2 linked regions of the Homo sapiens genome follow. The protein of the gene in region 2 interacts with the protein of the main gene of each other region in a biochemical or structural test. Each region holds a gene or a part of one and is shown on either strand. Other genes may lie near its edges.

The links.
Region 1: the proteins of KCNK3 (region 2) and YWHAB form a complex in vitro, tested with the Homo sapiens proteins (one study listed by BioGRID and IntAct).

Annotation. Positions count from the first base shown.
Region 1 is NC_000020.11:44,899,026-44,902,842, reverse strand, and holds part of YWHAB (14-3-3 protein beta/alpha), read right to left. Parts: intron 1,313-3,817; 5' UTR 1,310-1,312; coding exon 1,010-1,309; intron 1-1,009. UniProt on the Homo sapiens protein: Adapter protein implicated in the regulation of a large spectrum of both general and specialized signaling pathways. Binds to a large number of partners, usually by recognition of a phosphoserine or phosphothreonine motif.
Region 2 is NC_000002.12:26,723,473-26,727,289, reverse strand, and holds part of KCNK3 (potassium channel subfamily K member 3), read right to left. Parts: exon of another isoform or gene 2,730-3,817; intron 1-2,729. UniProt on the Homo sapiens protein: K(+) channel that conducts voltage-dependent outward rectifying currents upon membrane depolarization. Voltage sensing is coupled to K(+) electrochemical gradient in an 'ion flux gating' mode where outward but not inward ion flow opens the gate.

The sequences.
Region 1 (3,817 bases), on a different chromosome or scaffold from region 2:
CAAATTTAGTCATGACACTCTTACGCCATGAGTCTAATAAAAAGAGAAGCTCAATGCAAAGCTTAGTTATAAGGGGATTTAATCAACCAAAGTGAGAAGATGCAGGGGGCGGCAGTCGTTTTAATATTCTTTGTAGACAGACAGTGTGTAACTCCTAATAGGTTAGGGATAAGGGGTGCTGCCTGATGGCTGACAAGCTTTATACTGGTTTTCAAAAGAAAGGAGTCATGGGCAGTAATTTAGAAAGGCAGCCAGCAGGGAAGGTGGTAGGTCCCCAAGTGTGAATTCCTTTTCCCTTCAAAGCAGCCCTCGCTGAGTTCATTTTTACCTGATTTCACCTGGAAGAAAAAGAAAGTTCCCAATGGCTCAGGATGTGCGGGAAAGACAATATGATTATGATTTGTTTTGGAGTACGTACCCCTCCCATTCAATCCCAAGTGGCGGCCAGAGGGAATCAATCATCTGACTAAGGGTTTATGTAAAATACAGGAGAGGAGAATGCCCAAAACACTTTGAATTTGGCTCTGGAATGCATGCCGAACTTGATGGATGTGCCTAACTTTCAGACCAAAGCAGGACTTTACAGTGTGAAGGCATGACTGGGGAGAGGCTGAAAGGCAGCTCAGCTTTTTCATCTCCCTCCCCTACTGGCGATGACATCACTACTCTGACTAATATACACAATAGCCTATCTGTAGCTGTATCTATTAAAATCCTGTCTATCTGGCCTCAATTTTAAAAGATGGAGGGAGGCTGAAAAAATGTCACTGTTTTTCACAGGTCTTTTTGATAGGAGAGGAAAGTATCTCAGAAGTGATGTACAACCTCTGATCAGGCAATAGGTGACACAAATTATATCATATGCTTAAAAATTAGTTGTAAATACCTGGCAGCTTTCCAGTATATTCAGACACCTCTCTCTCATAAGCTGTTTTGAGAGTCTGCATTTATACATTAAATTAATACTATTTAGAAACCACTGTTCAAAACAGAAGCACTGGCCTCTTACCAGAACATCATTGCAGATGTCCTGCAGTTCTGCCTCTATCTTCTCACGGTACTCTTTGCCCATCTGCTGCTTCTTCTCATTCCTCTCTGTTTTCTGCTCAATGCTGGAGATGACACGCCAGGAAGAGCGGCGGGCGCCTACCACATTCTTGTAGGCAACAGAGAGCAGATTTCTCTCTTCGTTGGAGAGTTCATGCCCCTGTTCTGTGACTGCCTTCATGGCTGCAGCCATATCATCATATCGCTCAGCCTGCTCAGCGAGTTTGGCTTTCTGTACCAGCTCACTTTTATCCATTGTCATTCCCTAGAACAAGAGCAAGAGAAAAAGAAAGAGCAAATGTCAGGTTTCGGGGCCTAGGAAACGTGTGTGAATCTTCTTCCAACCCATCTGGAAAGCAGCATACTAAATGTGAAACATCTCATTCCAAATGCCATCAACAATATTGATGATATATCAAACACCTCTAGGGTTAAGTACTTTGCTAAGGCCTTTATATTATTTTGGTCCAGTAATCTTCCCAACAGTCCCAGAGTAGGTATGTTCATAACAACAACTTTCCCCTTCTTATGGGTGAAGAAATGGAGGGTCAGGGAAGGCAAGTGATATGCCCAGAGCAACATGCAAATAGATGGTGGAGAGCCAGAACTCCAGCTCACATCTATCTGGCTCTAGAGCTTTTGTTTTCTTCCATTAGCCTAATTCACCTGCCTGGCACATACAGACTGCTTAATAACTATTTCTTTAGAAGTTTATGCTTACTAGCCGGGTGCAGTGGCTCACACCTGTAATCCCAGCACTCTGGGAGGCCGAGGAGGGCAATTCACGAGGTCAGGAGTTCGAGACCAGCCTGACCAACACAGTGAAACCCCATCTCTACTAAAAATACAAAAATTAGCCAGGCGTGGTGGCAGGCATTTGTAATCCCAGCTACTGGGGAGGCTGAGGCAGGAGGATCGCTTGAAACCAAAAGGCAGAGGTTGCAGTGGGCCGAGATCACGCCACTGGACTCCAGCGTGGGCAACAGAGTGAGACTCCATCTCAAAAAAAAAGTTTATGCTTACTATATATATGTCCTTGACTTCTCTCAGTAATTGTCTGGTTTGTTTTAATGACCTTAATCCAACTGTATCCTGTAATACAGGAAGTCCTCTCTTCACTGTCCTGTAAGCAACTCTGGTTTTGACTAAACCTGTTTTTTCCATAGTACAGGAAAGAGTAAGTATGATGTTTGTTTCAACCAATCCTGAAGCAAAAGATATGATTTTAAATGATCTATTTGGCTGCACCCATCAAGCAGTAGATAACTGAAGGATGGGAAAGATTATATCACATCTTCTGTAATCTGCTAACTTTGTTACTAGGACACACTGCACAGGAAGAACATAAACTAAGGGCAGTCAGACTTGGGCTCTATCTAGCACTAGCTCTGCTACTTACTTACAAGTGGCATGACCTTGGTTAAATCACTTAACCTGAGAGCTTCGGTCTCTACTGGGCAATAAGAACACTACCCAGGGCTGGATGTGGTGACTCACGCCTAGGATCCCAAGAGTTCAAGATTATCCTGGCAAATCAGTCTCTAACATAGTAAGACTTCATCTCTACAAAAGAAGAAAAAATTGGCTGGGTGTGGTGGTGTGCACCTGTAGTCCCAGCTACTCAGGAGGCTGAGGTGGGAGGATCACTTGAGCCCAGAGTTCCAGGATGCAGTGAGCCGTGACTGTGCCATTACATTCCAGCCTGGGCAACCAACTGAGACCCCTGTCTCTAAAAAAAAAAAGAAAGAACACTACCAACTCTTTTAGTGGGCCTGTTATGAGGAACAAAAGACCTGATACATGTGAAGGCACCTTAAAAAGTATAAAGCATTATATAAAAATATCAGGCACTAATTTTGTATATGGTATAGGTTGCAAGAGAAAGGGGTGTATAACAAGATGTACAGCAACATAACTTGAAACCATAACTGAATTCATCTGAACCATAACTGAGTTCATTTAAAGTTTTTCTGAAATAGACAAAAATCCTAGTGACTTCAGTTTATCAATTTATCAAATCCATATGCCAATCAGTGAATATCTCTTATCAACTCACCACAGTCAGTTCCCCACTGCAATAATCACCATTTACAGAGTGCGGTAATTTTAATAAGTAATTTTTGGATAAAATAATTGAAAAGTTATTTACTAAACAAGAAGAGTTAATTTTATGTACTGTTGGTTTAAATATTGATATATCAATCTGTGCCACACAGTATAAAAATACACTAATATCCTGAGCTATAAAAACATGAAATGCTACTTTAAACAGTAGTAGTAATGTCAGGTTTTTTTGTGTGCTTTGTCTGTTTGTTTGAGACAGAGTCTCACTCTGTCACCCAGGCTGAAGTACAGTGGTGGGATCTCGGTTCACTGCAACCTCCACCTCCAGGGTTCAAGTGATTCTCCTGCCTTAGCCTCCCAGGTAGCTGGGATTACAGGCACGTGCCACCATGCACAGCTAACTTTTGTATTTTTAGTAGAGATGGGATTTTGCCATTTTTGGCCAGGCTGGTCTTGAACTCCTAAACTCAGGTGATCTGCCCGCCTTGGCCTCCCAAAGTGCTGGGACTTACAGGCGTGACCCACTGCACCTAGCCAATGCCAGTATTTTCAAAACAAATTCTTTCATTACTACATACATGGTATCACAATTTAAGGCTCTGAAAATGATTATTTGTTTGGAGACGGAGTCTCATTCTGTCACCCAGGCTGGAGTTCAGTGACGCAACCTCGGCTCACTGCAACCTCTGCCTCCTGGGTTCAAGCG
Region 2 (3,817 bases):
GAGGGCACAGGTCAGCTGGGAGAGCTGGATTCTAGTTCAGTGTCCTGGGCTGCGGGCGTGGTCCTTGTCCTCTCCATGCCTCAGTTTCCTTGACTACAAGGTGAGGTGGTTGCCCTGAATGGTTTCTGACATCCTGTGATCCAGTGTACAGGAAGGGAGACTGAGGCAGGGCTGGCTTCTTGGTGGATTCCCCGCTGCCAGCCAAAGCTTATGTGGGGTTGCTTGGCAACAAGGGCCCTTCAGTCTCCCTGGGGCAGCTGGCCCACTGTGCCACAGAAGAAAGGAGACTGCCTGCCCCTCCCTGCAAGAGCAGGATGAATGAGTGTTCCAGGGTCCCCATCAGCCTCCAACTGGAGGCCTTGGGGTCTTCCTCTGTACTTGACCTGATGTAGGATCTGTCCTCATGGGGAGGTGGTGTTACCCTTGGCAAAGCAGGAGCCCTCGGTGTCTTTCCAGGTGTGTTACTATCATCAGCCAGATAATCTCTCTGTACCCCGCCCCCACCCTGGCCCACCCTGAGCCAAGATCAGGGCAGAGGCAAATGTTCCCTCTGCACCAGCCATTCCAAAGCCTAAGTTGAGAATTCTTCCGGCTAACTGGAGGGAAAATGACCCTGGATGGGAACTCATCCCTAGTGACAGGGCCCTAGTGGCTGTGTGACCTTGGGCAAATTACTCCCACTCTCTGAACATGTTTCTTCATTTGTAAAGTGTGTTTACTGGTGCTGGCCTGCTTCTTTTATTGTTGATATATTTACTACTTTTATTAACATAATTATGATAATAAAATGACGCTGGCATTTTCTTCCATTCTAAGCCTTATCAAATCTTAACCAAATGTTTCTTCTTCCATGCAGTCCTCCTGGATTCCTCACAGCTTATGATCTCTGCCTTATTTGAGTGGCACTGAAAATGTTCAGCTTGTAATTCCAGGGCCAATATTACCACCACCCCCTGTCCTCTAGGATCCCCAACTACATAGAGCTAAACACTAGCTTTGGGGGGAAGGGGTGGCACTGATGGGTCTTGTCACTTTCCTCTCTAGCTTCTACCTCCACATTGCCAGCCATACCTATGGAGGCCCAGAATATGTTTGATAACTAAATTGCAAGGCAGGATACTGTGTGACTCTGTCCTGGACTTACTGTCTCTCTCTCTCTCTCTCTCTCTCTCTCTCTCTCTCTGTGTGTGTGTGTGTGTGTGTGTGTATGCATGATTTCTCTGAGCCTTAGTTTCCACATCTATAAAATGGGGTTAATAATACACTTGCCTCACAGGACTTTGGGGAGGAATAAGTAAGATCATGTGTGTAATGCACTTAGCCCAGAGCCTGGTACCTATCAAGTGCTCAATAATGGCTCACTGTGATTAATAATGAGTGAAGTGCCAGATTACTGTCATGTTTCCAAGAGAGCAGCCAGGCTTGAGGGCAGCTCAGTTCCAGTAAAGCTGGCACCTCTGTCAACCCAGGGCCATTTGGATCTTAAAGCTCAAGGAGCTCTGGGGACAGCTGCTTGGGGCTGCCCTTAGAACCAGCTCCCCTGACCCCCTCCACAGCGTCGGGCCAGTAACTGTGTCACCATTTGCTAGGGACCTGGACAGCTGAGCTGTAGAGCCACTGTGCTTAGGACGTCTGTGCTCCAGTAGGGTGAGAACAGATTGTGCCCGCCAGCTGGGCCATGGCAGCCAGACCACAACTCACCTCGACAACTGGGCAGGCCCTGAGCCAGAGCTGCTTCTCATCCCGTCCTTCCCTGTCCTCCAGGCCGGCACTACTTGGTGGAGAGGGGAGGGCATGGCACCATGGATGGGGCTCAACAGGAAGTAGGGAGCATGGACATAGCCCCAGCTTGGCCACGTGATAGCTGTGTGACCTTGGACAAATCCCTACCCCTCTCTGGGCTCACTTGTCTTTCCTACACTCTGGAAGATTGAGCTAGAGCTATTAACCCCCACCCTCGCTGCCCGCCAGAGCCCTCTGCAGGAGCACAGGAGAGACTGGGCGTTAGAGCTCTTTGGAAGCTGTAGCTTGCGAGATGGAAGCAGTGGTCGTGGGATCTCACAGGGGAAGGGTGACCTGAGAGCATGGGCCTGGGGGCAGGGCCATCTCTGTGGGGTCAGGCAGACACATACCACCATCAGGGGCCCTCACCCCCTCTCTGCCACCACTGCTCCCTTGTCCTGTGTTTGTCATAGGCCGTGACTTCCCTGGGCCCACCGTCTCTTAGGAAAAGCCAGTGCCCCCTGTCTGGCAGCCTCACTGCCCACTGTGACTGTGCTCACAAAGCGCCCAGCTTCAAGGAGCCACACATCCCTTCCTTGCCCTTCTTTTGCTATACCCTGCGGCCACCCCAGAGACCCGTCCTTAGCCCACACCCAGCCAAGCCGGCCCCTCCTCTCCACAGTGCTTCCCACACTGCCTCGTGGCCCTCCTTCGCCTCTCCTACCCCAGCCCACAAAGACCTAGCTCCTCAGGACCCAGCTTCAGCTGCAAGTGACAACCCCTTCCTCTGCCCTTCATCCTGTTGAACTTAGTGACTTTCAAAGCAAATGACACATCCAGGCTTAACCAGAGGCTCTTATCCCAGGCAGCACCTCATGCTCCACCACAGCCACTGCCCTGTCCAGGCAGCCCTGGCCTAGATGTGCCTCCTCTTTGGGGTCACATGCCCCCAGGGCTCAATCTCACTTCCTACCGCAGGCTGAGGCTTAAGAATAATAAGTTCTTACCCTTCAGATGTATTTTTAACTTAATCCTCAAAAACTTCTTACAAGGTCACTATTATGATTATCTTCATATTACAGTTGGTGTCATGAAGTCCAGAGAGGCCTTGGGTGTTGGCCAAGGCCACTGGGCCTTTCTGACTCAGCATTCATTCCGGTACGTGGGAGCCAATGCATCACCCAGGAAGGGCGACCAGGCCGGGAGGCCTTGGGAGGAGAGCATTTCACTTGGGCATCAGCCTCAGGCGTTGCTCTGAGCCAGTTGCAGCAGAGGTGGTAACAGGAGGGCCATGCTCAGGCAGTCAGACGCTTCTCCAAGTATCCGGCTTAGGGTGCCCCCCACCCCATTGCCTGTCCCATTGTCACTGGGTGAAAGGGCAAGGGAGTGTGAGGACCTGCTGACGTGGGCGCCCAACTTGGAGGGGTGCCAGCTGGGTGGAGCCACTCCCAGGGGGCCCTGGAGCTTCTGGGAAGTAAGTGGGAGTTTGGCAAGACCCGTCTGCCTGCCAGCAGGCCCGCTGCCTGCCTGGTCCTTGCCCATGTCGCGCTTGGCTTTATGAGGCAGGGGGCAAAAGGTGTTCTCTATCTTCTCTCCTCTGTCCAGGCCTTCGAGTCTCTGGGTGAGGGGCTGCATCTGTCCTTCTGTGTGGCTGACTCTCTGAGGACCCTCTCTCGCAGTACCTGCTGGGCTGATCAACCAGAGCAGATGTTCTGACCGGGAGACTCTGGCCACTGCCTCTCAGAAAACTACCAGGACTATCCATACCGCCTCCTCTCCCAGCCTCCTCTCCCTGAATCCAACATAGGTTTTAAGGTTCTCAGATCCAGAAATACCCTTAGCCATCATTTGGTTCAGTCTTTACATCGTACAGATGAGGAAATGGAGGCCCAGAGAGGGAAAGCAATCTGTTCAAGGTCACACAGCTTGTGAATGCCAGAACCAGGATTATAACCCAGGATACTTGGTTCTAAAACCAATGCTCTGTCCACTGCCCTCCAGCTCAGGTATGACCAGGGCCTCTTCATTCAATCATGGCCCAGCAGCTCCTACTTGGGAGCAACTCAGCTAAGAGGTGGCCTGGGACCCTGGCTGG